Homo sapiens: one gene and its partners. The protein of the gene in region 1 purifies or fractionates together with the protein of each later gene. This does not show direct contact. Each region holds a gene or a part of one and is shown in the gene's direction. Other genes may lie near its edges.

Region 1 (4,484 bases):
TTACAAGGGAGAAGGGGGTGTTCTTAAAAACTGAAAGCCCACTTAGTGATTTTTTTTTTTTTTTGGAGTCAAGGTCTCACTCTGTTACCCAGGCTGGAGTGCAGTAGTGTGATCTCAGTTCACTGCAGCCTCTACCTCCCAGACTCAAGCAGTCCTCCCACCTCAGCCTTCCAAATAGCTGGGACTACAGGCGTGTACCACTACGCCCAGCTAATTTTTGTATTTTTTGTAGAGACGGGGTTTTGCCAAGTTGCCCAGGCTAAGTTGGTGGTTTTTAAAAGGGAGAATAAGGGAAACCTTTTATTTGCTTATAGTGTTACTAACTTTTAAGGATTCACCAAGACCTCTATTTTCAAGAACTGACTTTGTCCTTGCTAGCCCAGTGTCAATCCAAACTTTCCACAGAGGATTTGTTCAACTATGCAGCCTTCCTGTGTCTTGGTGGAACTGTCAGTTTTCATATTTACTTTAGCAATTAGTTTGACTGATTTTGAAATACTTCAAGGGAAAAAGGGAGAAACCTTAGTGGAGTTTGTAATGCATCTCTGCCAACTCTAGGAAGGAATTCTGTATTTTTATCCTTCTGAAGGGTAAATATTGGCACTGTTAATGAGACGGTGAAATGGTAAGTCATTTATTTCTGAAATGAGGTAACTGAAGTTCTGTGTTATATATTGCAAGAATAATGTAATCGGCTGGGCGCGGTGGCTCAGGCCTGTAATCCCAGCACTTGGGGAGGCCTAGGGCAGATCACGAGGTCAGGAGATTGAGACCATCCTGGCTAACACGGTGAAACCCCATCTCTACTAAAAATACAAAACATTAGCCGGGTGTGGTGGTGGGCGCTGTAGTCCCAGCTACTCCGGAGGCTGAGGCAGGAGGATGGTGTGAACCCAGGAGGTGGAGTTTGCAGTGAGCCGAGATCACACCACTGCACTCCAGCCTGGGCGACAGTGCGAGACTCCATCTCAAAAAAAAAAAAAAAAAAGAAGAATGTCATCATGTGACACTCTTAGTGTATCCTTGGAAGATGAACACCAAAAGAAATCTTGGGTCAGATTTTGTTTCAAGAGGCCTTTCTAAAACCTTGTTCTTCTCCTCTAGTGTGGTAGAAGAGGAGACACGGCGATCCCAGCAAGCTGCTCGGGACAAACAGAGTCCCAGCCAGGCCAATGGCTGCAGCGACCACAGGCCCATCGACATCCTGGAGATGCTGAGCAGAGCCAAGGATGAGTATGAGAGGGTGAGGCTCTCTGGGTACTTGGGTGCTGACCAGGGAAGACCAAAACGGGAGGAGGAGGTCTGCAGGAGACTATTTTACTAGGGAAGCTGGCCTCCAGGGACGGCAGAAATATAAGTTCAAAAAGAGAGCGTGTTAGCACACTCCTGTAATCAGTCCCAGCTACTTGGCAGGCTGAGGAAGGAAGATCACTTGACTCCAGGAGTTGGAGGCTGCAGTGGGCTATGATTGTGCCACTCCACTCTAGTCTGGGCAACAGTGAGACCCTGTGTCTCTCTTTTTTTTTTTTTAAAACAGATGTGTCTTACAATTTTAAACCTAAAACATAAGGAAAGAACTTGCTTACCCCAGATTACTTGTTTTTGGCAGGAAAATTTACAATGCTTTTTTCTATTCCTATAAGATTACTATGGGAGAAGATGGTCTTGGAGTGCAGAAGTTAGCTCGCAGCAGCTAGTTCTGGTAAAGCTTCGTGCCTCTTCTTCACCACTGCAGTTTCTGTTAGGATCCTCAGTGGTCCTAGGAATTTGTTTAGGCTTTGAAAAGTATTCTGATAGTTTGTACCACATAATACTAAAAAATACACTCATGGTCTGTAATTGGTGGTAGATGCACAACCTTCATTAAGCTTCATTTGGAATTTTACCCAAATGAGAGGCTTTTCTGAAATTCACTGTTTTCTTTCTCTTCTGTTGTGCATTTTAGTTTATAAATTAGCTGATAAAATTTTCTCCCAAAAGTTGAATAAAATGGCAATTGTGGTACTTTCGTTAATTTATTCAATACCTGCTTATGAACCATCTACTATGTGCAAGCAGTGGGCATTTCATGGTTATGACTCTCCTGGAATTTTACTTGGCACCTCAAAGCCCCCACACTTCACTGGAGTGAGACAAGCTCTCTACTGCTGAACTTTGTTTTAGCAGAATTATACTGTCACCTTACTCTTCATTAAATATTGAATTAAGTGCTTTCCTTTCATGCCTATTTCACCTCACCAGAACTTCAAGGAACAAAATGTGAAAAAGCACTGTCCAAAAGACCCTGTTTCCCATACAGTTCTGCTATAATACCAGCTACTAAGTTATTAATCAGTGATCCTGAAAAAAGCTTCAAATTGGCAAAACGAGTTAAGGTACTGTTGTTAGCATGACTCTTCCTCCTCCCATCCTCTTGGGACTTTACAGAGCTCAAAACTGAGAGGTCCTGCAATAAGTAAAACAATAACACCAATTCCCAGATTGACTTGACTGCAGGACCATTTTTTGCATACTGCCCTTTAACAACTCAAGAATTTGGAGTTCAGGAAAAAGTTTGAAAAAAGTGTTCTGAAAGATAGTTTCTTCTGACTAAAAATAGGCATGTTCACCATAAACTACATAGACCTTCTACATTCTGATAACAAAGGAAGTCCCACCTCCAGGGTGGAGAAATGTACATGAGAGCCCATGAGAAGTTTCAAGTTTGTACCAAATTCTTCAATGTCTCACAGAGAATTAGGAGGAATGAATGGATCTATGGAAGTTAAATTTGGAGGAGCAGTCACCTCTCTAATAAATTAATCGATTCTTAGGAAACCAAATGAGAACTAACTTCAAGAATGGCTTTCTGATTTAGAAGTTACCTTACATTCCCCTCTTCTACCCTTGATGACAAGCGGATTTTCTACGTACATACTTTGTTCTGTTTGTAGAGCCCTTTCAGTGTTCTCATAGGTACCTAGTAAGTCCAGGGCTCTGTCACTCATCCTGAGTAATAACTGTATCAAGGTACCACACGGGACAGAAACTGTAGGTGCTGCGCACTAAAGCAGATACTCCAGTAAGTGGCCTGGCTTACTCAGGCTGAGAGGTTAAGTAGCCACAACGAGAAAGTAGGAAATAAGACATTAGCTTTGAACACAAAACTTTAAAGGAACTCTAGGGTCAGGTGGGCAATCTAAACATCTGACATTATTTTGAATTATATCAATATTACAAAAGGAATATAGATAGCATGATAGTTTCTGTTTTAAATAAACTTCTTTCACACTATGGAATAAAATATCGTCTATGGGTAGATTAAAATGAAACCCTTTGGGATTTGGTTAAATCTTTGATATTTACTTTATCATGTGTTCTTTCTGATTTTGAAAACTGTCTGCAATAGGTGGAGCTTCTTTGAATTAGAGTTTTGTTCTCTTATCTGCATTTGTCTATCATCTCATCAGATGGAGCTGGTATAAGCAGTGACCCATGAATTCATGGGTCTTGGTGTTTGGATGGGCTCCCTTCAGCTGCCACATTTTTTCAGACGGCCCCTTTGTTTATCTTTAGGTGAAGACTCAGAAGATTGGCAATCAAGGGCAGGGGTGCAAGCTAGGCCTCAGTGTTGGGATTTAATCCTGATTCTGAGTCTCCGCTATCTGCTGAGTATGATATAATGAACGAAATTTCAGACTTTTGAATGAGCACTTGTAATAATGAGACTCTTTTCTTTTTTCAGACAGGGTCTCTCTGTTGCCCAGGCTGGAGTGCAGGGGCACAATCTTGGCCCACTGCAGCCTCTACCTCCCAGGCTCAAGACATTCTCCCATCTTAGCCTCCCAATTAGCCACGACTATAGGCCATGCATCACCATGCTTGGATAATTTTGTTTATTTTTTGTAGAGATAGAGTCTCACTATGTTGCCCTGGCTGATCTTGACAAGCTCCTGGGCTCAAGCTGTCCTCCCGCCTTGGCCTCCCAAAGTGCTGGAATTATAGGTGTGAGACACTGTGGCCAGCCTAGAGACTGTTTGAAAATTAAAAATCTGTATAATAAGCATTTTCTTCAAAAGAAAGATATTGCACTTCTATAATATCTTTTAATTAACTTTCCTTTTTTTTTTTTTTTGAGATGGAGTCTCGCTCTGTTGCCAGGCTACAGTGCAGTGGCGCGATCTCGACTCACTGCAACCTCCACCTCCCAGATTCAAGTGATCCTCCTGCCTCAGCCTCCTGAGTAGCTGGGACTACAGGCATGCACCACTATGACCGGCTAATTTTTTGTATTTTTAGTAGAGACAGGGTTTCACCATGTTGGCCAGGATAGTCTCAATCTCTTGACCTCGTGATTGGCCCGCCTCAGCCTCCCAAAGTCCTGGGATTACAGGCGTGAGCCACCGTACCTAGCCTCAACTTTCTTATTTTTTATGTAAAGAAAGATAGTTGAAACCACACTTGGCCCATTATGAGTTGCTTCTAGCCATAGGATGTAATCCTGG
Region 2 (4,484 bases), on another chromosome or scaffold:
TACATAGTAGTTACTCATTAAGGGCCATTCTATGTACAGTAGAGATGAAAAAGTGGTCTCAAGGCCTCTTGCTCCTTTGCACCAGAAAACCTACCAAAGCATGACTCTAAAGGTCAGTGTATCAGAGGAAGAAGAGGTGACAGTGCCTCTGGGGTTCTGGAGTGATCCGGAATGTGCCTTTCTGTTATTTGGTCTCTTAGTTTTAATTTTAGTAAAGGCAGTAGTATTTTTTTTCTGAGAATAACATGAAAAGGGATTTTTTTTTTTTAAATCAGGGTCTTCTCTGTCACCCAGGCCAGAGTGCAGTGGCAAGATCTCGGCTCACTGCAACCTCTGCCTCCTGGGCTCAAGCCATCCTCCCACCTCAGCCTCCCAAGTAGATGGGACTACAGGCACATGCCACCACGCACAACTAATTTGTGTATTTTTTGTAGAGGTGGGGTTTCGCCATGTTGTCCAGGCTGGTCTCAAACTCCTGAGCTCAAGCTATCAGCCTGCCTCGACCTCCCAAAGTGTTGGGATTACAGGTGTGAGCTACTGCAACCGGCCATGAAGGGAAATTTTGTGGAAAAGTGAGTGAGTCTAGAAAGTTGGAATGGAATCCCAAAGTACTGCCAGCCTTCCTTTTATGATCCATTTATAGGTATGAGTCATACATTTAACCTAAACCTTCTTGTCCCTATTTGTATTTTCTTTTTTGAGACAGGATCTCACTCTGTCACCCAGGCTTCAGTGCAGTGGCACAGTCACAGCTCATTGCAGCCTCAACTTTCTGTACTCAAAGCGATCCTCCCACCTCAGCCTCTTGAGTAGCATGTGCCACCATGCCTGATTGACTTTTTTTTTTTTGAGACAGAGCCTTGCTCTGTCACTCATGCTGCAGTGCAATGGCGATATCTTGTCTCACTGCAACCCCTGCCTCCCAGGTTCAAGCAGTTCTCCTGCGTCAGCCCCCAAGTAGCTGGGATTACAGGTGCCCGCCACCATACCAGGCTAATGTTTGTGTTTTTAGCAGAGACAGGGTTTTGCCATGTTGGCCAGGCTGGTCCGGGGCTCCTGACCTCACGTGATCCACCTGCCTCAGCCTCCCAAAGTGCTGGGATTACAGGTGTGAGCCACCACACCCAGCCTCCGATTGATTTTTATATTTTTTGCAGAAACAGGGTCTCACTATGTTGCTCTGGCTGGTCTCGAACTCCTGGACTCAAGCAGTACTGCCTCCACCTCCCAAAGTGCTGGAATTACAGGCATGAGCCACCATGCCCATCCCCAGCCCCCTGTTCATTTTTTTTTTTCTTTTGAGATAGAGTCTTGCTCTGTCACCCAGGCTGGAGTGCAGTGGCGCGATCGCAGCTCACTGCAAGCTCCGCCTCCTGGGTTCAAGCCATTCTCCTGCCTCAGCCTCCCGAGTAGCTGGGACTACAGGCACCCGCCACCACGCCTGGCTAATTTTTTGTATTTTTTAGTAGAGGCAGGGTTTCACCGTGTTAGCCAGGATGATCTCGATCTCCTGACCTCTTGATCCACCCGCCTTGGCCTCCCAAAGTGCTGGGATTACATGCATGAGCCACCACGCCCGTCCCATATTTTAATCCTATGCCCCAAAGACTACATTTCCTGATTTTACTGTCCACTAAATAAAACACATTTTTATATGTTACTTTTTTTTTTTTTTTTGGAGATGGAGTTTCACTCGTGTTGCCCAGGCTGGAGCGCAATGGTGCGATCTTGGCTCACTGCAACCTCCAGCTCCCGGGTTCCAACAATTCTCCTGCCTCAGCCTCCCAAGTAGCTGGGATTACAGGCATGTGCCACCGTGCCTGGCTAATTTTCTATTTTTAGTAGAGACGGAGTTTCACCATTTTGATCAGGCTGGTCTCAAACTCCTGACCTCAGGTCATCCACCCACCTTGGCCTCCCATAGTGCTGGGATTACAGGCATGAGCCACCACACCTGACCATTTTTATATATTGCATACTCTAAAGCATGTTGCTGAATTTTAATTATAGATACGGTGTATACATCTGTTTACCCTTTCTCTCTTTTTATTTTTTAGATTTTTATTAACATTCTGTCTAAGACTTTGTATTTCCAGATAGAGATGTGCTTTTTAATGGAAAGTTTCTCTTTATACCATGTTTATTTCAGTTGTGTTTATTTGTATATTTTCCTACAGTTTACACCTTGTTTCTTAATTCAAAATATCTTACTGTAATGCTTTTTTCTTATTTTTTCCTGATTTTTAATTTCTGTACCAAAATTGGTCTTCATTTACTTTCTTTTTTAGCCTATTTCTGTTCTCATAAATAGGAGAAAAGTCAAATTCTACATTATCCATGGCAAGGAAAAACCATCTTTTAACCTCAGCATGGGGAACAGAGAGGCGTGTTGGACACCATGACTTTCCGTTTCTGTTGGCTGCGCCTGGTCACTGCTATGGCAGAATAAAGCCTGGAGAGAGACATAGCCTTTCAACTCATGCTTGTCTGATCTTTACCTGGTTTTACAGAAAAGCACAGTAGTGAGGTTATTTTGATTTAGAGCTGTTCCCCATCTGATGCCAGGATCCCTTCAACAGTGGTGGAGGAGGTTTAGACACAGTGTTGAGTTTGATTCCCTCTGTCTTTTCTCGTAGTTTGGCCTGTCACTGCTCCTCATCCTCCTGAGCCGTGGTGAAGACCTACAGAGTTCAGACCCTGCTACAGAATCAACACAAAATAATCAGTGGTCAGTGTGGACTGTTTCTTCTCTTATTTTAAGTTCTTTGAGGTAATCTTTTAAATTTTTTTCTCCTGATATTATTATGGGTCTTCCCTGTCAGGACGGAGGTGATGTTCATGGCAACACGAGAACTTCTGCGGATTCCCCAAGCAGCCCTGGCCAAGCCAATCTCTATACCTACAAACCTAGTGTCCCTCTTTTCTCGCTATGTTGACCGGCAGAAACTGAACTTGCTGGAGACAAAACTGCAGTAAGTTTGAAACAGGAGAGTTTCACATCTCACTAAAGTTGGGACTTTAGAAGTTATGGTTGGGAGGCTGGGTACGGTGGCTCACACCTGTAATCCCAGCATTTTAGGACACCCAGGAGGGTGGATCACTTGAGGCCAGGAGTTCCAGACCAGCCTGACCAAAATGGTGAAACCCTGTCTCTACTAAAAAAATACGAAAATTAGCCAAGTGCGGTGGTGCATGCCTGTAATCCCAGCTATTCGGTAGGCTGAGGTATGAAAATCATTTAAACCCGGGAGACAGAGATTGCAGTGAGCTGAGATCACGCCACTGCACTCCAGCCTGGGTGACAGAGCAAGACCCTGTCTCAAAAAAAATAAATAAAAAGAAGTTATGATTGGGGTGGAGGGGGGAATAAAACTGAATTTGGTGGAAGAGATTGACTTTTTATTAACTATTTGTGTATCTGTTAGATATAAAACACTGAACTGGGTACAACAGGGCCTTCATAAAAGATGACCAAATGCTAAGGGTAGAGAAATAATCTCGGGTATTTTGTTATGAGAAGTCTTACAAAGATGTAACTGTAATATGAAAGATTGCCTTCTGTTTTAACTCATTTATACAATTTTCCTTTCTCTCCTTTGTACTCCTAGGCTAGTTCAGGGGATACGATAAAAGATCTCCAAATGTGTCCTGTACCTCCTTTTGGCTGCCACCTGCACTGCTGCCATCACCAATGGAGTGTTTTTAATGAGGGAAGGAAGGTAGCTTTTTCCCCAAAGCAAAGTCTTGTGGGATCGATTCCTGTTTACAGGGGTTGTCTCTCTAAATGTCAGATATTTCCCCACTGCTCTATGAAATTTGGCTGGGTGATACTTCTGCTGGTTTCTTTACCTTCTGTGTTACAGTTCTGCATGTCCTACTTTTACTCAGTTCTGTTTTGCATTTTCTTTGCCCTAGAGACACAAGTGTAATCTCTCCCTTTATCCCTCCACTACTCCACCTCAGAGTAGATTGTAGCCTGCCAAAGGATTCCTTCCCTCATCCTATTGAAGTTGTTTTTTCATTGCCCCATATTAATATGACTATAGAAGAGCCAATTAAGTAGAAATCAAGATATACACACACACATAGATACACACACACACACCCCATACATGTATTTATGTGGTCTTCAGAGGGTCCTTAAAGAATGAATTTTAGATTGAAAAATATTTAGTTGTCTCATTACCTCTTCTAAACACAAACCAGCTGATGTATTTTAATCTGTTTCTGTTCTATCTTGTAATTAATTTGGTGGGTTCTACTTGTTTTAACATAAATAAAGAGTATGCAGCACGTTTAATAAAATCAGAACTCTTAATTGGCTTATGCCCAGGTCTAGGCTGAGAAGTCCTTTTTCTTCTTCCCACCTTTATTTCCTTAGTTTCTGTCCACCTTAATCGAAACAACACATGGTTATGTCTTTTTCCTGCTACAACTACAGGGTACTTGAGCCTTTCCCCTCAAGTGCATTCGAAGTCACCCAG
Region 3 (4,484 bases), on another chromosome or scaffold:
AAGGGGAGGCCTACACAGAACTCTGAAGAACACTAACATCATAAGGGACAGACAGAGGAAGAGGACCTGGAAAGGGAATAGAGAAGGAACAGAGAAATAGAAGGAACGCTGGAAAGGCTAAGAGAAGGGAGTATGTCAAAAAGAAAGGAATTGCCAGCAATGTCAGCAGCAATATTAGCCTGCCTTCATCCTCAAATCTGGGTTAGATGACCCTTGTATGTCCTTGCAGAGTCAGAGCAGGACTGGTTGTGTCCCCAAAGTGATGTTCATTGACCTTGAGGAGAGCAATTTCATGAAGTGGTGAAGCAAAAGGCAGATAGCAGTTGATTGAGAAGAACTTGGGAAAGGAAGGAGTGAAGACAGCAAATACAGACAACTCTCACAGGAATTTGGCAATCCAGGGGAGGAGGGAAAGGTAGTGGTAGCTACAGGAGAAGTTGGGGATTAAGAGAAAGCTTTTAAAACAGTGAAACCTTTTGTGTGTTCAAATCCCAGTGGGAAGATGCCTATAGAGAGAGGTTTAAAATGGCCCGGCGGGTAGAATGTTGACCCTGGGAAAGAGGAAACTCATTCCTCACTCTCTGTGTGCCAGGCACTGTTGGAGGCATGGGGATACAGCCGTAAACAAAACATGCAAAACTCCTTGCCCTTGTGGAGCTCACATTGTCGTTGCAGAAAAGGATAATAAGCAAAACAATAAGTAAAATTTATAGTTTATTAGATGGCAGAAAATAAAGAGGAAGGGGATGCAGTTTTAAAATTTTAGTCAGGAAAATCTGCACTAAGCAGGTGACATTTGGGTTAAGCCTTGAAAAAGGAGAAGGAGCAATTATATGGTTATATGGTTATTTACAAGTAAAAGGTTTGAAGTAGCTCCTGTGAAGGCTAGGAGAGAGAATTAGGGAAACAAGGATTGTTGTACAGCGGGTCACGTGAGGTTGAGGACATTCAATTTCAGGTCATACCAGTCTGCTTAGTTGTGTGATTTTCTTCCCACTTTCCAGCAGCAGCCAAAGGCTGAGATTACACAAGGTAGGCAGTTGTATTGACCCAGGGTTGGGATTTTGCCATGTGGTTGTTATAGAAGTGTAGTGAGACACAGTTAAGAAGTTATGGAGCCGGGCGCAGTGGCAAACGCCTGTAATCCCAGCACTTTGGGAGGCTGAGGCAGGCGGATCACGAGGTCAGGAGTTCGAGACCAGCCTGGCCAATATGGTGAAACCCCATCTCTCCTAAAAATACAAAAATTAGCTGGGTGTGGTGGCAGGCACCTGTAATCCCAGCTACTTGGGAGGCAGAGGGAGGAGAACTGCTTGAATCCAGGAGGTGGAGGTTGCAGTGAGCCAAGATCGCGCCGCTGCACTCCAGCCTGGGTGACAGAGCAAGACTCTCTCTGGGGGGGGGGAAAAAAAAAGAAGTTAGGGCAAGCAAGTGGCTGAAGTGGTAGACCATGGAATATATGCTGAATAGGAGAAGGAAGTAAAGACAGCACCTGACAGGGAGAAAGAATACGCACATCAGTTTTCTGTTTGCAGACCTTTGTTGGACTGACCCATAGAGTCAGAAGGGACCTAGTTCTGCCTCTTCAGTCTCCCTTTATTTTACTAAATATAAAAGTAGGCTAAAGAGAGGTAAAGTGCATTTTTAAACTCAGAGTTCAATATTTAGTAGATCCTTAGAAACTGCTTTTAAATTTTGTATTCTGCAGTTCCAATAATGAAACTAATAGAAAATAGATACTAGTAGCAGTAGAAAGCTTTGTCTGAAAATAGTCATCAAAAGGGGTGGGATCCAGACTTCTATCACATCCAAGGTGAGAATTTTTCTTGGTTAGGAACAAAGTAAACAATATGAAGAGACTGGGGATATTTTCATGGTAGAAATAAGACATGATCAGTACTTTCAACTAATTTACACCCTAAATTAGGGAAACGGGGAATATATACAATAGCCCATTGTCAGTGGAAAAACACAAACTGTGCTTTTTTTGTTTTCCCATTCAACAACAGCAATCAACACAGAACACTTCTGTGACCAAATGTATGGAGGTTTTCCCCCACACACCAAGCAAACAATCAGTTTTGCAGCAGACACCAGCTGGTTGTCCTCCATTTCAATTCTTATACTATCTACCTGATGATAGCATCAGATCCCGCAGGTTGAAGACTCAGTCCCCAAGACTGGCCTGCCCTTCCCACTAGTTGCAAGTCCAGGCCTCTGGAACTTCTGACCGACCAGCTTGAAGTTGGGGATCCCACAAGCTTCTCTTTGGGTTCTAAAGCTTGCTAGAGTGGCTTACAGAACTCAGGGAAACACTTAGGTTTACTGGTTTATTATAGAGGATATACCAAAGGATGCTGCTGAAGAGATGAATAGCCCAAAGTATGGGGAAAAGGGGGCAGAGCTTCCATGTCCTCCTCAGGCGTGTCCTCTCCCAGGAGCCTCCATGAGTTCAGCTATTCAGAAGCTCTCTAAACTCTGTTCTCTGGGGCCTTTTATGGAGTCTTCATTGGATAGGCCTGACTGACAATTCTGTATTAATGTGACTGGACAAAAAGGGTATGATCTAATACTAGTAGACTGAGTGGGGAAACCCAGCAAGGCCTGTCCAGATTCTTCTTGGCCTCTCTGTGAAGCTTTCCTTCCTCCAGGGTATGAGGCAGAATCCCTTCAGAAATGAGGGTTTTATGACCCACAATCAGAAAGGTCAGGGAAGATTATAGTCCTGACTTGGGCAGGTGAGGGGAGGGCAAAAGAAGGGCAGAGAGATTGTGAGAGAGATTCTTTTTCTGAGGCCTGTCTCTGAGGCCTAAAATGCCTCGACATGGTAACAAAAGACTGTAACAAGGGCATTGGGAGTTATAAGCCAGGAATCGTGGATGGAAACCCATATATATATACACATATATATATATATATATATATACACATATATATATATATATATATACACATATATATATATATATATATACACATATATATATATACACACATATATATATATATACATACATATATATATACACATATATATATATATATATCACACATATATATATATATATATCACACACACATAACCGTATAATACAAAACGTAAGATACAGATGCGTGTATAATAGTGCTCCCAAAGGTTGTGTATCTTTTTCAAATTGAATCTAAGATGACTTGATGTACAAGAGCTCACTCATTAAAGGGTAAAGATTAATCTTTTTAAAAAGAATAACTACATAACATAATTCGATGGTTTACATCATACATTCATATACTCATTCAAATATATTCATTGCAAACATTTAGAAACTGTTGGGTTTATATAAAGTGTAATTCAGGTACAAAAGAGAAAAATTTCCATTTGGAAAAATTGGAGTTACCAGCATCATGAGGGGTTAGTCTGGCAAACCTTTCCAGCAAAAGCTGTAGAAGATTCTTCACTCCATAAACCTCCATATGGTGTTGTCTAATTGTATACTGCAGATTTAAAACTAAGCAAAGGCTGAACCATGCATTCTTAATGGGGCAGATGACACTCCCAAAGGGGTGAAAATTGGTTCTTGGTGGTGGTGGGGCAATATCTTACTTTTTCATGTATGAGGCACAGATATACATAAACAGAGAGTGTAGCTGTGGTATTAAAATCTCATGGAGATGGGATTAGAAGAAAAAAAAGTCTTAAAAGGCTCATTAGATAAAAAATAATGAAAAAGTAATTGAGTAACACTGGACTAGAATTTACCTTGCTTGGAACTATACTGAGGAAATAACTCAGTGCCAATTTAACTTGAACGTTGTCCCCTGTTGGAAGATGGTTAGCATCCCCGATCTCGGCGCACCAAATTTTAGCAGTATGCGTGATCAAAAGGGCGTCTATGTATTTCCACCTCTGGTTGAGAAACACTGCTTCAGAGCCACACTCCATCTGCTGGGTCCACGCTGGCAGCTTTTTCCCAACAAAAAATAGATGTCTTGCCATTCTTGACATCCGTGAAGCTAGTGATAAGGTATTCAAAAGGGGGAGGGGGAGAAAGATAAAGAAAACCTGTCTTTGTAGTCTTAAAGCTGGCCAAGTTTGCTAGATGGATGATAACAGAAGCAGCAAAAACATGGCTTTTTGATTGGCAAGATCTAAATTCCCTCTGGGATTTTTAGCTTTTTTAGTTCTGCATTACAGAAAGCACAGAAATATTTAGAATGGAGGTTGAGTGCCAGTCTGCCCTATTTGGGTTTTCAGATTTAAAGAAATCTGAAACAGTTATTCGTTGTATTTAAATTGTTTATTAGAGTCAGTGGTGATAATGAAGTCAGGATAGGCTAGCTCTTCCTCTAATCCATGCATTTCCAAAAGGATAAAAGTTGGTTCTTCCCTGGGGCAGAGCAGAGGTGGCAGGAGAAAAACAATTTTTATTCTTTTTATATGTAAAGCATAGGTATACCATACAGAACATAAACATATATACATTGTATCTGTGCCATTAAAACAT
Region 4 (4,119 bases), on another chromosome or scaffold:
TGGGATCCAGCTTGTGATTGGGATCCTCGGTGACCAGCCTCAGAATCCTTAAATTCCTCTAACCAGCAGCAGGATTAGAGCCAGAGCCTGGGGCTGAGCTGAACCTAGAGGTGGGGCCAGACTGACGCAGTTGGAAATCAAATGAGTAGCCACAGTTTCAGGTGCTGAAAGCACCTGACCAAGTACTGCTTACCTCTAAAGCAAACCTGGGACTTCGCTAGGGTACAGGGAGTAGCAATGTATATGTGGCACCTCCCTTTTTCCACACGAGTCTAGTGCCTAGGTACCATATGCAGGAACTGGGATCTTTATTGTCAAGTATTCATTTTAGGAAAATGCCAGAAGTCAAGCCCTTGTGTTGATAACCCACTAAACGCCTTGCACATTCTTTTTTATTCTTTTTTTTTTCTTTGAGACGGAGTCTTGCTCTGTGCCCCAGGCTGGAGTGCAGTGGCACAATCTTGGCTCACTGCAACCTCTGCCTTCCAGGTTCAAGCAGTTCTCCTCCTGCTTGAACCTCCCAAGTAGCTGAGATTACAGGCACCTGCCACCATGCCCTGCTAATTTTTTTAGTAAAGACGGGGTTTCACCATGTTGGCCAGGTTGGTTTTTGAACTCCTGACCTCAAGTTATCCACCCGTCTCAGCCTCCCAAAGTACTGGGATTACAGGCGTGAGCCACCATGCCCGGCCCACCTTGCACATCCTTAACGTTCAAGGCTTCCTGCTTCAATCCCTGTTCCAACTGTCTTGAGGGCCCATTGCTGGCAAGTGGCCAGTCAGATCATGCTGGAGGGAGGAAAGTAGGACTAGTTCAGTTGTTGAGGCTACAGGAGCCACTTTGGGCTGTGGTTTTACAGGCTCACCTTTCTGTTCTATCCTAGAACTTGCTTATTTCAGTTGTTTTTATGTTGTTGCCCCTGGACTTCCTCTGTTCCAGGTAAAAATTCATGCAGGCCCCAAATTTGCCTCCTATCTGACCTTCAGCCCCTCCGAAGTGAAGTCACTCCGAACTGAGTATGGGGACCTGGAATTATGCATTGAAGTAGTGGACAACGTTCAGGATGCCATTGACCACATCCACAAGTATGGCAGCTCCCACACGGATGTCATCGTCACAGAGGACGGTCAGTGTCCAGATGCTTCCCGCATACAGTGTCTGCCTTTGCTGCTTTCTGATCCTGCTCCTCTTAGCCCCCCTTGGGCTGCAGAAAAACATCATTTGAGTAGGCTTATGGTAATGTTTAGTAGTGGTTGCATTTGGTACTTTGATGAGTGCTTTCACATCACTTTATTATATTGTCACAGCTGGAGGAGGAGGGGCAGGGATGATTAGCTCTGCTTCGAAGATGACTAACCCTGTCAGAGGCACTATCATTTAATGCGTGCAGCAAATCTTACAAGGTAGTTAAAATAAACCCATTTTACAGCTGAGGAAACCAAGGCAGAACCAACTCTGCACATTCATTCATTCATTCATTTATTCCACAAATATGTATGCAGGGACACTCCTGGGTGTCAGATACTGGAGCCTCAATGGTGGAGGATGCCAGTAGGGCCCCAATGAGGAATTTACAGTCAGCTAATTAGGGCACCAGAGCAGTACCACCCGTATTAACAGCCAACATTTACCAAGCACTCACTGTGTGCTAGGCACTAGCATGAGTACTCCCCAGGTGTTTCATCCTCTCTACAACCCTATCAGCTAGGTCATGTTGTAAGTCCCTTTTGACCCAGACACAGAGAGTTTTGTACACCTGCAGAAGGTCACAAAGCTAGCAGGTGTACAGCTGGAGTTCAGGCCTAGGAAGTCTGGCTCTGGAGCCCATAAGTAGGAAGTTTAGGCAGGTCACCTGCATGGGAGATCTGGATTCCAACTCAGTCTTTCCACAACACCGTGATTGATGAAGCTAACTTGTCTTCTTCCTGTTGAGATTTTTCATAAGCCTGAGTATTTAATACGTGAGAACACATGGAGAGGCCCCAGTGGGGACCCAGACCCTGCCCTGATCTGTCACCAGTCAATGGCTGGAAACAGGGATGTTCTCTGGGTATCATCCTAACTTGGTTTCTCCTTCTTCACCCTGCAGAAAACACAGCGGAGTTCTTCCTGCAGCACGTAGACAGTGCCTGTGTGTTCTGGAATGCCAGCACTCGCTTTTCTGATGGTTACCGCTTTGGACTGGGTAAGAAAGACTCTGGTTGGGAAGAAAGAAGTTCCTTGTGAAGCACTGTGTGGTCTAGGGGTATGTTGAGGTGGGAAAGACACCTCCCCTTGACTGTCACATGCTTGGTCAAGATAAGAGAGAAACAGGCTGGGTGCCGTGGCTCACGCCTGTAATCCCAGCACTTTGGGAGGCCGAGGTGGGTGGATCACCTGAGGTCAGGAGTTCGAGACCAGCGTGGCCAACATGGTGAAACCCTGTCTCTACTAAAAATGCAAAAAATTAGCCAGGTGTGGTGGTGCATGCCTGTAATCCCAGCTACTCAGGAGGCTGAGGCAGGAGAATTGCTTGAACCCGGGAGGCAGAGGTTGCGGTGAGCCCGAGATTACGCTACAGCACTCCAGCCTGGAGGACAGAGTGAGACACCATCTCAAAAAAAAAAAAAAAATAGAGACAGACTTCTGGCAAGGTAGGATTATCAGGGAGAATAATTAATGAAACCTCCCATGAGTTGGTGGAAGGCCTATCTTCTAAGCATTTCACATGCTAAGAAGGCAGGTACTTGTATTCATTTTTCAAAGAGGGAGAATGAGATTCAGAGAAGTATAGTAACTTGCCCAAAGTCCCACAGCTGGCATTCAGACCCAAACTTGAGCAAGTCCAAAGCCTGGGTTCTCCCGCTACAGCGTGGGCAACCACAGCCTGCCTTTTTACACAGGCTGCGCCAGAGGTACATGCTGTGTCCCTTGAGAGCACTCCTTTTACAGACTTATTTCGTCAAAATGGCACAGCCAGGTTGCCTCGGAGATAGGAAACCCCACAATGGTAGGACAAAAGAAGGTGCCGTGGGCCTAAGTACCAGCATCAAAACAAACAGGCCAGCCAGAAGTACAAGGTTACCTTCTACAGCAGACCTTGAAATAAAAAGCTTCAGAAGGGCACTTCTGTCCCTTTCCATTAGGTATAAAATTTCCAGCCCTCTGTCGTGTTGGGGTTATTTGGACAGTCTCTCGTTTTCAGGGGTACCAGTATATAAAACTCCAGAACGGGCGCAGTGGCTCACGCCTATAATTCCAGCACTTTGGGAGGCCAAGGCGGGCAGATCACCTGAGGCCGGGAGTTGGAGATCAGCGTGACCAACATAGAGAAACCCCATCTCTACTAAAAATACAAAATTAGCTGAGCATGGTGGCACTTGCCTGTAATCCCAGCTACTCGGGAGGCTGAGGCAGGAGAATCGCTTGAACCTGGGAGGCAGAGGTTGCAGTGAGCCGAGACCGCACCATTGCGCTCTAGCCTGGGCAACAAGAGCTAAACTCCATCTCAAAAAACAAAACAGACAAAAAACCTCCAATAATACATTTATGACACGTTTTCTGAATATTTGAGAATTATTTCAACCACTCAAAACATTTTAGGCCACGGGCAGTGGCTCACACCTGTAATCCCGGCACTTTGAGAGGCTGAAGCAGGAGGATCTCATGAGTCGGGGAGTTCGAGACCAGCCTGGGCAACGCAGCGAGACCTCCTCTCTACAGAGATGAAAAAATTATCCAGGTGTGGTGGCGTGAGCCTGTAGTCCCAGTTACTCAGGAGGCTGAGGCAAGAGGATCCCTTGAGCCCAGGAGTTCGAGGCTGCAGTGAGCTAAGATGATGCCATTGTACTCCAGCCTGGGAGAGAGTGAGGCCCTATCTGTATAACAAAACAAAACAGAAAGACACACATTTTAATCCTTCTGAACTTTTTGAGTAGATGATCTGCCTGGAGAAATAATTCTCACCAAATTGTTAAAAGGTTATGAAAGGGAATTTAACTCAGTTATTCTTAATCATGATACTCTTTATTTTTAGTTCCCCATTTGTATTATGTTGGGATTTTGATGTAATTATCACATCACTTGCATTGATCTTTATACTCTCCATGTACTTGAAAAAGAAATAGCAACATATTTTTA
Region 5 (4,276 bases), on another chromosome or scaffold:
TCTTTATTCACATCTTATTTCTTTAGTAATTCACAGAATTGGAATTTTTGGATTAAAGTTCTTTTTTTTTTTGAGACGGGGTCTCACTCTGTCGCCCAGGCTGGAGTGCAGTGGTGTGATCTTGGATCACTGCAACCTCCGCCTCCCGAGTTCAAGCAATTCTCTGCCTCAGCCCCCCAAGTAGTTGGGATTACAGGCACCCGCCACCACGCCCAGCTAATTTTTTGTATTTTTAGTAGAGATGGGTTTCACCATCTTGGCCAGGCTGGTCTTGAACTCCTGACCTCGTGATCCACCCGTCTCGGCCTCCCAAAGTTCTGGAATTACAGGCGTGAGCCACCGCGCCTGGCCTGGATGAAAGTTTTTTTAAAGGGAGTCTTGCTCTGTAGCCCTGGCTGGTGTGCAGTGGTGTGATCATAGCTCACTGCAGCCTCAAACTCCTGGGCTCAAGTGATCCTCCAGCCTCAGCCTCCTCAGTAGCTTGGACGACAGCTGCACACAACCATGCCCAGCTAATAGAGACGGGGGACTCACTATGTTGCCCAGGCTAGTCTCGAACTCCTGGGCTCAAGTGATCCTCTTGCCTGGGCCTCCCAAAATTGGGATTACAGGCGTGAGCCACCGCTCCTGGCCCGAAAGAGTGTTTTTAAGGCTTTAAAAAAATATTGCCAACATGGTGAAAACCCGTTTCTACAAAAATACAAAAAGGATCCGGGCATGACGGCGAGTGCCTGTAATCCCAGCTACTCAGGAGACTGAGGCAGGAGAATCGCTTGAACGTGGGAGGCAGAGGTGGTAGTTAGCGGAGATCGCGCCACTACACTCCAGGCTGGGCAACTGAGGGAGACACCGTCTTAAAAAAAAAAAAGTTCCCAAGTCTAAAAAAAAAAAAATCATCAATCTGCTCTCAAAAACTGTCGCAACAATTTACAATCTCATCAGCACTGAGTATCCATTTCCTTGCACCCTTCTCAGTAGTATTACCATTAAACAAACAAAATTTATATGCGTCAGTTTGTTGGGCTCAAAGGAGCCTCTCGACAAGTTTCCTATTCCCCACGCTGCCTCTCCTCTGGACACAGGAAGGGGTCCTTTTCCTTATTTATTTTGTTATTTCATTTTCGTCAACACGGCTCGGCTTGGGGACAGGGGTCGGGGGCAGGCCGGTTACCGCAGAGGTGGAGGCCGCGCGGCACCTGGCCTGGAGAGCTCACCACACAGCGACACAGACTTCTTCTCAGCTGGGTCCACCTGCTTGCCTCGGGGCGACAGAGGGCGCCACGGCGTCCGCGACGGACCCCGCCCCCAGGCAGTGCGCCGCGCTCCCGTGACGTATTTCCGCGTCATCTGCCGCCGAGGCTTGCCCCCATTGGTTGTCTGCGAGGCAATAGGGGCGGAGCCGAGTGGGAGTGTGGAAAGCGCCGCATCCCGGGTGGGAGGCGAGGCTTCCCCTTCCCCGCCCCTCCCCCGGCCTCCAGTCCCTCCCAGGGCCGCTTCGCAGAGCGGCTAGGAGCACGGCGGCGGCGGCACTTTCCCCGGCAGGAGCTGGAGCTGGGCTCTGGTGCGCGCGCGGCTGTGCCGCCCGAGCCGGAGGGACTGGTTGGTTGAGAGAGAGAGAGGAAGGGAATCCCGGGCTGCCGAACCGCACGTTCAGCCCGCTCCGCTCCTGCAGGGCAGCCTTTCGGCTCTCTGCGCGCGAAGCCGAGTCCCGGGCGGGTGGGGCGGGGGTCCACTGAGACCGCTACCGGCCCCTCGGCGCTGACGGGACCGCGCGGGGCGCACCCGCTGAAGGCAGCCCCGGGGCCCGCGGCCCGGACTTGGTCCTGCGCAGCGGGCGCGGGGCAGCGCAGCGGGAGGAAGCGAGAGGTGCTGCCCTCCCCCCGGAGTTGGAAGCGCGTTACCCGGGTCCAAAATGCCCAAGAAGAAGCCGACGCCCATCCAGCTGAACCCGGCCCCCGACGGCTCTGCAGTTAACGGGACCAGCTCTGCGGAGTAAGTATGGGGCGGGCGGTGAACCTCGGGGCCCGGCTGGGGAGGCCCGAGCCGGGGAGCAGGAGCGCGCGCCAGGCTCCGATCTGGTTTGTCACGTACGTCTGGGGCTGGCAGGGGGCGAGAAACTCCCGGCCGCCGAGGTATCGGTGACTAAGCACTGATTGTGTTCCTGACTCAGACCAGTTAGCGGATCCCGCGGGTCTCCATTCCTCTCTGTACCCCTTTTCCCGACCGTTTTAGTGGTTCCTGGCCACTGTACAGTCTTCTCCCAAGAAAATAAAAGCTAGCACGTCTCCCCTGCCTCCTCCCAGTTCTGTTCTAAATGTGATCATCTGGGAGTCTGGCCTGTAACGGGGAGAGGAGGCTAATGTTTTGGAAAGAATTAAGATCGCATCTGTGCTTTTGAGACCAGCTCAGGGTATTAAGTGTGGAGCATCATCCTCACCTTCATGCCTGACACCTGTGGGGCCTGAGTGCCTTGTTGCAGGCCAACTGCCTGGCCAGCGGGGGCGTGCTGGAAGTCCGTGTGGACTTCGTGGCTTTTCCTTGCTGACTTTGGAGGTTCCTGGTACTTGGCCTTCCTGGGAAATTGCTCAAGAAAGCGGCTTTCTTCTTCATCCTACTCTTCATTCATTCATTGAACAAACCATTTTCTCACTAATGATTTCCTAGCTTTCCGTACTTCACCAGGAGCCCCTAAACTCCTGACCTGAGGCATGAACACCATGACCTAGAAACCACATGCTAGGTGCTCCATCTCTGCAGCTTCCAGCGTTGCTTACAAACGAGCACTTTATTTCATTAAATAATCATGAGTCTGTTTCCTGGGGGTTTCTGAGCTCCCACAACTCTCTTGGGTTCTAGGTAAGGGACAAGACTATGTGAGGGAAAGCTGCTTAGCTAGCTAGAGAAATAGCCAGAAAAGATTAGGTTATTATTATTTTTTTGCCTTTTTTTGGTTGTTGTTTGCCCAACCTTCAATAAGGATTGGGTTCTTAATCTTTTACCTGCACACTGCAGACTTTAGGAAGCTAATTGATGAAATCAGAATAGGCTTGGACCTTATGCTCTTTGGTGATTTCTGTAACCTCCCTTCCTTTCTCTAGATTTTTAGAAAATTTTATTTTTTAAACTTTTATACAGATGGGGTCTTGCTATATTGCTTAGGCTGGTCTTGAACTCCTGGACTCTAGCGATCCTCCCAAAGTGCTGGGATTACAGGCATGAGCCACTATGCCCAGCCAACTTTCTCTAGATTTTAATAACCCGGGGACCTGTTGGCTTGATGACTTGTTCCATCCCTGTAATGATCACAAGGTCGATGGTGGACCTGTGGTGTGTGTTCAGCTGTGTTTTTCAGACCTGCTCCCAACAGACTCTCTTCTTTAGTCCCCTCTCAATCCTGTGGGGTCTATTTTGCATAATACTGACTTGTATAGGTAGTTGGATTGCATTATTGCATTGCAAACATTTGTTCTTTTTTTTTTTTTTTTTTTGAGTCGGAGTTTCACTCTTGTTGCCCAGGCTGGAGTGCAATGGTGCGATCTTGGCTAACTGCAGCCTCTGCCTCCCGGGTTCAAGCGACTCTCCTGCCTCAGCCTCCCGAGTAGCTGGGATTACAGGCATGCGCCACCATGCCCGGCTAATTTTGTATTTTTAGTAGAGATGGGGTTTCTCCAAGTTGTTCAGGCTGGTGGCAAACTCCCGTCCTCAGGTGATCCACCTGCCTCGGCCTCCGAAAATGCTGGGATTACAGGCATGAGCCACCGTGCCCAGCCCATTTGTTCAGTTTTAGTATACAGTGTTTCACCCTCTTAAAATAGACTGAAAGTCATGACTGTTGTTAGGACAAGTTTTGACCACAGTGGATTCTGGCTGAGTGTTATGGCCTCATTATCCTTTCCTATTTGATTTGGAAGTGGATACTGAGTAGAAGTACCTGTTATCATTCTGTTGTAATCGTGATACCACAACTGTATTCTCTCAAGGAGGAGGAATTTCATTAAAACAGTAAAAGCAGGATGAGAAGAAACTACCCCAGATTTGGTGGCAGAAAAATTTGGATGGTACTGGGAGAGTCTAAACAGTGGTTAAAAGGTAAGGGCTCTGGAGTCAGGCTAAGTTTGAAGCCTAGCTCTGTTGTGGTTTTTTTTTTTTTTTTTTTTTTTTGACAGTCTCGCTCTGTTGCCCAGGCCAGAGTGCAGTGGTGCGATCTCGGCTCACCACAACCTCCACCTCCCGGCTTCAAGCGATTCTCCTGCCTCAGCCTCCTAACTAGCTGAGA
Region 6 (3,591 bases), on another chromosome or scaffold:
ATCACGGCCTCCTCCTCACCCTCACACCCCCTCCCTCCAGCCGCACACTCAGAGCCTGGAGACGCTGAACCTGGGCCACAACCCCATCGGGAACGAGGGTGTGCGGCACCTCAAGAACGGGCTCATCAGCAACCGCAGCGTGCTGCGCCTCGGGCTGGCCTCCACCAAGCTCACGTGCGAGGGTAGGGTACGGGGCCGGGCCAGGGTGCGGGCTGGTGGGCTCAGCCGGGCGGCCAGCCGGGTGTGGGGCCCGTGGCCAGCCCCTGCGGTGCCCCCCCAGGCGCGGTGGCGGTGGCGGAGTTCATCGCTGAGAGCCCCCGCCTCCTGAGACTGGACCTTCGGGAGAACGAGATCAAGACAGGCGGGCTCATGGCACTGTCGTTGGCCCTCAAGGTGAACCACTCACTGCTGCGCCTGGACCTCGACCGTGAACCCAAGAAAGAGGCGGTGAGCAGGGGACGGTCCTGCAGCCCTGGGGCGGGCGGAAGGCCGGGTGGTGGGGCCGGCCTGAGAGCCCTAGCCAGGCGCTCCCGCCACAGGTGAAGAGCTTCATCGAGACGCAGAAGGCGCTGCTGGCCGAGATCCAGAACGGCTGCAAGCGCAACTTGGTGCTGGCGCGGGAGAGGGAGGAGAAGGAGCAGCCGCCACAGCTGTCGGCCTCCATGCCTGAGACCACCGCCACCGAGCCCCAGCCCGACGACGAGCCCGCCGCTGGGGTGCAGAACGGGGCCCCCAGCCCCGCACCCAGCCCGGACTCAGACTCAGACTCGGACTCGGATGGGGAGGAAGAGGAGGAAGAGGAAGGGGAGAGGGACGAGACCCCCTGTCCTGCCCTGGTGCCCCCCACGGACTCCCTGGGCCCTGGGGACAGGAGTCCCCCAGGCAGCCCCTCCACACCCACCGAGCAGCGGATTTCCGTGTCCAGCCCGGGCCGGGGCCACAAGGTGTTTGTGGTGACCCGGGTGGAGAGCCCGCCCGAGAGGGCAGAGCCCCCTGCGTCCCCCACCCCTCCCTCTCCCCCACCCCCTCCCTCCCCACCCGCCTCACCTTCCCTACCACCAGCCGGGGCCATTGACACCCGGGACACAGGGTCCTCTGAGCCTCAGCCACCACCGGAGCCGCCTCGGTCAGGGCCACCACTGCCCAACGGCCTGAAGCCCGAGTTCGCCCTGGCACTGCCCCCTGAGCCGCCCCCGGGGCCTGAGGTCAAGGGGGGCAGCTGCGGCCTGGAGCACGGTGAGAGGGGCCCTAGGGCAGGTGTTGAGGGGCCCTGGGTGCTGTATGTGACCCCAGGCAAGCCCCTGCCTGTTGTGGACCTCAGTTTCCCCCTCTTTAAAATGGTTCTCGCAGGGGCCAGCAAAGTGGGGCTTAGTTCTCATCTCCACCCTGCTTCCCTTGGGTCCTGGGAGCTCTTCCTGGGGTGGGGGGGCATGTAAGGTGTGCTGCCTTGAGCCTGACCATCTCAGCGGTCTCTGGGCACTCTGCAGGCCCTGAGGGTCTGGCTGGGGCCGGGCTGGGGACAGGTTGTATTTGCCCCACCCGCCTGACGGGGGTGCTGGCCCGTCCTCCCACACAGAACTGAGCTGCTCCAAGAACGAGAAGGAGCTCGAGGAGCTGCTTCTGGAAGCCAGTCAGGAATCCGGGCAGGAGACACTGTGACACTTTAGGTGAGGCCAGGCCCGGGGCCCACAGCACTCGGGAGGAGCTGAGAGAGCCTCTGGCTCTGACAGTCTCTCCCCCAATCTCTCCTCCCCAAGTTCCCTTTTTCCGGTCGGTCTGCGATGAGCTGAGGCCAGAGCCATGAGAATCTGCTCACCTTCCCCCCAGCCTTCCTGAGGCCCAGGATGCCAGGGGTGGGGGCCATTCTGGGGCCCCCCTCCCCCCACAGCAACACTACAAGGGGTGCAGGAGCTACAGGGAGTGGCCCTCCGCGCGTGACTCAAGCACTTCTATTTATGAGCCCAGCACTGGAAGACTCTGGGGGTGAATGGGAGGAGGGGGAGCAGGAGGAGGAGGAGGTCTCCAAGGACATCAGGCGCCTGTTCTGGAGGGGCCAGGCTTGCCCTGCGGAGGGCAGGCGTCCTGGGTGGTGGTGGGATGGTCCCCTGTGGCCCCGGGCACAGGGCCGGGCAGGCAGCCTGGTGCCGGAGAGGCGGTGCGTGCTGGTGGTGGTTGAGATGCACAGAACAGCCCCAGACAGCGCAGGCCGGGCAGGGTGGGGGGATGGGAGCAGAGGATCAGAGCTTTCTTTTTCTCAAGTGCAATAAATCTATCAGGGAGCTGGGGCGGGAGCAGCCGGCACTCCGGGACCCTGCTGTCCAGGCCACTGGAGGCTGCGCCCTGAGAGGCACTACAGCCCTTTGGGGGCGAGTGGCATGGGTGTGGGTGAGGGTGGGCAGAGGGCTGGGGCTACTCCTGTCGGTGCAACTCTGTTCACACCTTTTCTAATAAACTGGGGCTGGGTTCACTTTGCCCAACGTCTGCTTCGTGCGGATCCTGGAGGTGGTTGCTGGGGGTGGGCTGGGTGGAGGCCATCACAGCTCCTGGTTACAGAGCATCTGCCAGGGCACTGGTCAGGCATTACTGCGTCTTCCCCCACAGTCCCGTCTATTCTGCATCCATGCTCTGGTGTCTCGTACGGTCACCTCCCAGCCAGGCGAGTTTACACCCATCCTTTCTGCAGGGAGAGACAGGCCCCAGATACCTCCTGGCTTCAGGTCTAGGGTCTCAGGATGCTGGATATGGAGTGGCTCTGCCCAGTCGCCCATCGCTCAACAGGAACAGATCCCAGCCTGTCCCTGGCAGCCCCAGGTGTTGTGCAGGTGGGAGTATGCCCCGGGCCCAGCCAGCACTGCAGGAGCCTGGTGGGCGGCTTGTTCCCCTTTGCCAGCAGGGGCCTGGGGGGCCATGGGGGTGCTGTTGCGGATTTCTGAGAGGTCTGTTTTTCCCTTTAGGAAAGGGGGGAGCAGGCCGGGCATGGTGGCCCACACCTGTAATCCCAGCACTTTGGGAGGCTGAGGTGGGAGGATTGCTTGAACCCAGGAATTTGACACCAGCCTGGGCAACATGGTGAAACCCCATCTCCATAGAAAATACAAAAATTAGCTGGGTGTGGTGGCGTGTGCCTGTAGTCCCAGCTACTGAGGAGGCTGAGTTGGGAGGATCGCTTGAACCCAGGAGGTTGAGGCTGCAGTGAGGTGTGATTGCACCACTGCACTTCAGCCTGGGCAACAGAGTGAGATCCTGTCTCAAAAAAAAAAAAAATTACTAAACGAGCATTTCTGGGCCACCCATCCCCTTGTTTCCCGTGTGGGAGGCTGACATGGATGGAGGCGTTGTGGTGACATCACGAGAACCACAGTCGCAGGCTGGAGCCCTGGTGTCATTCAGCTCCTGCACACACCAGGGAGTCCCCTGCCCCCAGCCACCCTGGCCTCTGGGAGGAACACCTTAGGAAGCCACTGCTGGTTTGCTGTTTGGTCCCTTGCAGCTGTAAGTGTCCTAACTGCTCCCCAGGTCAGCCACGGCTAGGACTCTTATTTGGGCGAGGGACTTAGGGAAGCTACACAGAACAGCCGCCAGCAGCCCGCA
Region 7 (4,484 bases), on another chromosome or scaffold:
TTGAAGCTGAACAGGCTCTAAATTGTTGGGTTTTAAAAAAATTTTTGTTTACTTAAGCCTATAGCTCCTAGTATTCCCAGGCATTCTCCTATGCAAAAACCAACCAGGACTGACCCTGCTCACCTTCTGGCTCTATAAGTTATTATTCAGCAGACCTGCAGAATAAATAGACTTTTAAAAAACAACTTCGTTGAGATATGATTTACATATTACAAAATTCAGCTCTTTTAAGTGTACAATAATTTTTAGTAAATTGAGTTGTACAATTTTAGAATATTTTTGTCACCTCAGTAAATCTATTATGCTAATTTATAATTAATCCCCTTCCCCACTCCCAGGCACTACTAATCTTTCTGTCTCTGTAGATTTGTATTTTCTGGATGCTTTATAGAAATGGAATCATATAGTATACAGACCTCTGTGCCTAGCATATTCTTTTTTATTTTTATTTTTTGAGACAGTGTCTCACTCTGTCACTCAGAGTGGAGTGCAGTGGCACAGTCACTCCAGCCTCAATCTTCCTGGGCTCAGGTAATCCTCCCACCTGAGTAGCTGGGACTGTAGGCATGCACCACCATGCCCAGCTAAAGCATATTCTTTAAAACAATATTCAGTTACTTTGTCAACACTAAATAATTTACCCTCTCCCATCTAAATCACTGTCATCTTCTCTTCAAAGTTGTTAACTGAAGTTTGGAGGTCACCCATTGTTCTTATTTTGAAATTGAATGTGTGCCCTTGAATTAACCTGACGTAACACTTCTTTCCTCTGTATTAGCAGTGCCACACTCTGCTCTATGTTTATAACCTACCAGCAAATAAGGATGGCAAGAGCGTCAGCAACAGGCTCAGACGCCTGTCCGATAATTGTGGTGGGAAAGTGCTGAGTATCACAGGCTGCAGTGCAATTCTCCGCTTCATAAACCAAGATAGTGCAGAGCGCGCTCAGAAGCGAATGGAAAACGAAGATGTCTTTGGTAATAGGATCATTGTGTCATTTACTCCAAAAAATAGAGAACTCTGTGAAACAAAGAGTTCAAATGCAATTGCTGATAAAGTGAAGTCTCCCAAAAAACTTAAGAATCCAAAATTGTGCCTCATCAAAGATGCAAGTGAACAATCTTCCAGTGCCAAAGCCACGCCTGGAAAAGGGTCACAGGCAAATTCTGGATCTGCTACAAAAAATACAAATGTTAAAAGTTTACAGGTAATTTTGATACCTCTTGCTTTCTGAAGTTTATGGTAGGTTTGGTTTGTTTCTGTGTTTTACGTGCCCGCTTGCTTTTGGCGTGTCCCTTTTTGATTTCAGTGTTTGATGATACTCAAAGTCAATCGTTTTCTGTAAAGGATCTAACACATCTTGGGTACTTAAAATTTAAACCCCACTGTGCTTGTGTCTTTGAAGGAGCTGTGCCGCATGGAGTCAAAAACTGGTCATAGAAACAGTGAGCACCAGCAAGGTCACCTGAGGCTGGTCGTACCCACTCACGGTAACTCAAGTGCTGCAGTGTCGACGCCGAAAAACTCGGGGGTGGCAGAACCCGTTTACAAAACCAGTCAGAAGTATGTGAAACTACTCTTTCTCATAGCTGCTTCTTGAATGTGAAGGAAGACATATGACCTTTTGCCTTCAATTTTCCCCTTCTGTTAGAAAGGAGAACCTCAGTGCCCGAAGTGTTACCAGTTCTCCTGTAGAGAAAAAAGATAAAGAGGAGACTGTATTCCAAGTGAGTTACCCGTCTGCTTTTAGCAAGTTAGTTGCATCCAGGCAAGTCAGTCCTCTGCTCGCATCTCAGTCTTGGTCTTCTAGGTGAGTCCAGCTTCTTGACCCATGGGGGTGGTTACATGTAATAGGAAGGATTATGAAATAGTATGTTTGTTGAAAAGAATTCAGATAGTACTGAAATGCACAAAGTAAGTCTCCCATCACTCTTCTGCCAGTCCCCCTCTCCTCAGGTAATCATCGTTAACATTTAGGGGCAATGCTTTCACCATTTCTTCTTCCTCCATCTGGAAATTGTGGTAAGCAGAGGTCAGAAAGAGAAGCCTGTTGGAGAGTCCCTGGCCAGTGCAGGGGGGCATGTAAAGATGTCCCTATGTTCGCTGTGTTGAGGAAAAAGCCCAAACGAGCCGTGCATTGGTGGTTCTGATTCATATGGTTCTGTATAGGAAGCTATTTGGAAGTAAAGTTTTCTGTAAACCATGGTAATTATTTATCACTGTCTCTCACACCAAGGAATTCTTGATGCTTGGGAGACAGAGAAGCCGTAAGGCCGTGTTGCATTCCCATGAGCTCCTTTTAGCATTGTGTTTGTTCTGCTGAGTTGGTGGCAGATCACTGTAGAAAGTGACTATGGATCAGCCGGGCGTGGTGGCTCACGCCTGTAATCCCAGCACTTTGGGAGGCCGAGGCGGGAGGATCATGAGGTTAGGAGATCAAGACCATCCTGGCTAACCGGCTAACACGGTGAAACCCCATCTCTACTAAAAATACAAAAAATTAGCCGGGCGTGGTAGTGAGTGCCTGCAGTCCCAGTTACTTGGGAGGCTGAGGCAGGAGAATGGCATGAACCTGGGAGGTGGAGGTTGCAGTGAGCTCAGATCGCATGACTGCACTCCAGCCTGGGTGACAGAGCGAGACTCCGTCTCAAAAAAAAAAAAAAAAAAAGAGAAAGTGACTATGGATCTATAAAATTACATCTAAAAAGCCACATAAAAGTTTTCCTTATGTGCAGAAAGAACTGTAACATGTAGGCAAGAACGTTTAACTCTTTCAGAGACACAGAGGAGGTTAGACGCCTTAAATTGGTATCACAGGCTGATTTCCTAAGGATAATGCACAAAGCAGAAGGTTAATTCATCAGGACTGCCTCTAATTCCTGCCTTTAGCTTTAACCCAAAGGAAGAATATATATTAATTGGTTGGCGGTAATTAGGGGTCAGTAGATAGTACTTTTGACAATGTCTGAAATCAATGTGTATTTAAGATTAAAAACACAGCTGGGCACAGTGGCTCACGCCTGTAATCCCAGCCCTTTGGGAGGCTGAGGCAGGTGGATCACTTGAGGTCAGGAGTTTAAGACCAGCCTGGCCAACATGGTAAAACCCCATCTCTACCAAAAATAAAAAAAATTAGCTGGGTGTAGTGGTGCATGCCTGTAGTCCCAGCTACTGGGGAGGCTGAGACAGGAGAATTGCTTGAATCCAGGAGGTGGAGGTTGCAGTAAGCCGAGATCGTGCCATTGCACTCCAGCCTGGGTGACAGAGCGAGACTCTGTCTCAAAAAAAAAAAAAAAAAAAAAAAGATTAAAAACACATTTGAAAACCAAATGTTTGGTTTGGTTGTGTTGTGGAAAATCTGCTTCTGTATATAGTTTCAAACAAAGCCTAAATGATAAAATCTAAATATACAGAACAGTTTTTTAAAATAATGTCAATATGTGTGTTTTAAGCAGGAGTATGTCTCCAAACCTTTTAAACAGAGCATCCCCGCTTGCTTTCAACATTGCAAATTCGAGCAGCGAAGCCGACTGCCCAGACCCATTTGCAAATGGTGCTGATGTCCAAGTCAGCAACATAGACTACAGATTATCCCGGAAGGAGCTGCAGCAGCTCCTGCAGGAAGCATTTGCCAGGCATGGCAAGGTAACTTTTTCCCTCTTGTGCTTGCTTTGTTATACTCTCTGATGGAGTCTCTAGTCAAGAGGACCTAATTTGATATACATAACCACAGCCGGGATAGAAGTGTGACTGAACAAGTTTGAACTCCTTCCTTTTCCCTTTGGTCTGCTCAGGGTGGTGCTATAAATCCAGTTTTTACAATGTTAGCCCCAGAGAGCAAGACGCCTAGCAGTGAAAAGCTCTTGTCTTAGGCAGAAATTGAAATGGCAATTTGTGGCCAGGCATGGCGGCTCATGCCTGTAATTCCAGCACTTTGGGAGGCCAAGGCGGCCAGATCACCTGAGGTCAGGAGTTTGAGACCAGCCTGGCGAGTGAAACCCCGTCTCTACTAAAAAAAAATTAGCCGGGCGTGGTGGTGCACGCCTGTAGTCCCAGCTCCTTAGGAGGCTAAGGCAGGAGAATTGCTTAAACACGGGAGGCAGAGGTTGCAGTAAGCTGAGATGACGCCACTGCTCTCTGGCCTGGGAGACAGAGTGAGACTCCATCTCAGAAAGAAAAAAAAAAAAAGGCAATTTGATAAGTAAAACATTGATGGATTTCAGTTAGCTCTTCCTGCTGAAATACAGGTAGGATTCTAAAATAATGTTGGCTGGTCTTGTTTATGCCTTATTATATTTGACTCATTTTTTAGGTGCAATTTTGCTAAAAATGCACCTTTTTAGTAGATTCTTAAAAATGGCCATGTCCTGGGTTTTGTAGAGTCTAGAAAAGACCCCAAACACTCTTCCCATGTGTTGGCCTCTGAGCCTGCCTTGGAAACCTGTGTGTGCCAGAGCACACAGGCAGGCCGGGCCAGTGTCACA

Evidence for each region.
Region 2: the proteins of DCP1A (region 1) and PATL1 purify together in Homo sapiens (co-immunoprecipitation; 2 studies listed by BioGRID and IntAct, with this or other methods). This does not show direct contact.
Region 3: the proteins of DCP1A (region 1) and HINT3 purify together in Homo sapiens (co-immunoprecipitation; one large-scale study listed by IntAct). This does not show direct contact.
Region 4: the proteins of DCP1A (region 1) and ALDH18A1 purify together in Homo sapiens (affinity purification with mass spectrometry; one large-scale study listed by BioGRID and IntAct). This does not show direct contact.
Region 5: the proteins of DCP1A (region 1) and MAP2K1 purify together in Homo sapiens (affinity purification with mass spectrometry; one large-scale study listed by BioGRID and IntAct). This does not show direct contact.
Region 6: the proteins of DCP1A (region 1) and PPP1R37 purify together in Homo sapiens (affinity purification with mass spectrometry; one large-scale study listed by BioGRID and IntAct). This does not show direct contact.
Region 7: the proteins of DCP1A (region 1) and MARF1 purify together in Homo sapiens (affinity purification with mass spectrometry; one large-scale study listed by BioGRID and IntAct). This does not show direct contact.

The regions. Positions count from the first base shown.
Region 1 is NC_000003.12:53,309,000-53,313,483, reverse strand, and holds part of DCP1A (mRNA-decapping enzyme 1A), read left to right. Parts: intron 1-1,104; coding exon 1,105-1,243; intron 1,244-4,484. UniProt on the Homo sapiens protein: Necessary for the degradation of mRNAs, both in normal mRNA turnover and in nonsense-mediated mRNA decay. Removes the 7-methyl guanine cap structure from mRNA molecules, yielding a 5'-phosphorylated mRNA fragment and 7m-GDP.
Region 2 is NC_000011.10:59,637,536-59,642,019, reverse strand, and holds part of PATL1 (protein PAT1 homolog 1), read left to right. Parts: intron 1-2,636; coding exon 2,637-2,728; intron 2,729-2,822; coding exon 2,823-2,972; intron 2,973-3,608; coding exon 3,609-3,630; 3' UTR 3,631-4,484. UniProt on the Homo sapiens protein: RNA-binding protein involved in deadenylation-dependent decapping of mRNAs, leading to the degradation of mRNAs. Acts as a scaffold protein that connects deadenylation and decapping machinery.
Region 3 is NC_000006.12:125,959,261-125,963,744, forward strand, and holds part of HINT3 (adenosine 5'-monophosphoramidase HINT3), read left to right. Parts: intron 1-4,484. UniProt on the Homo sapiens protein: Exhibits adenosine 5'-monophosphoramidase activity, hydrolyzing purine nucleotide phosphoramidates with a single phosphate group such as adenosine 5'monophosphoramidate (AMP-NH2) to yield AMP and NH2.
Region 4 is NC_000010.11:95,608,263-95,612,381, reverse strand, and holds part of ALDH18A1 (delta-1-pyrroline-5-carboxylate synthase), read left to right. Parts: intron 1-939; coding exon 940-1,126; intron 1,127-2,089; coding exon 2,090-2,185; intron 2,186-4,119. UniProt on the Homo sapiens protein: Bifunctional enzyme that converts glutamate to glutamate 5-semialdehyde, an intermediate in the biosynthesis of proline, ornithine and arginine.
Region 5 is NC_000015.10:66,385,436-66,389,711, forward strand, and holds the start of MAP2K1 (dual specificity mitogen-activated protein kinase kinase 1), read left to right. Parts: upstream 1-1,476; 5' UTR 1,477-1,912; coding exon 1,913-1,992; intron 1,993-4,276. UniProt on the Homo sapiens protein: Dual specificity protein kinase which acts as an essential component of the MAP kinase signal transduction pathway.
Region 6 is NC_000019.10:45,144,814-45,148,404, forward strand, and holds the end of PPP1R37 (protein phosphatase 1 regulatory subunit 37), read left to right. Parts: intron 1-40; coding exon 41-182; intron 183-280; coding exon 281-447; intron 448-539; coding exon 540-1,236; intron 1,237-1,576; coding exon 1,577-1,659; 3' UTR 1,660-1,667; intron 1,668-1,757; 3' UTR 1,758-2,472; downstream 2,473-3,591. UniProt on the Homo sapiens protein: Inhibits phosphatase activity of protein phosphatase 1 (PP1) complexes.
Region 7 is NC_000016.10:15,622,095-15,626,578, reverse strand, and holds part of MARF1 (meiosis regulator and mRNA stability factor 1), read left to right. Parts: intron 1-778; coding exon 779-1,207; intron 1,208-1,405; coding exon 1,406-1,563; intron 1,564-1,651; coding exon 1,652-1,810; intron 1,811-3,452; coding exon of another isoform or gene 3,453-3,455; coding exon 3,456-3,645; intron 3,646-4,484.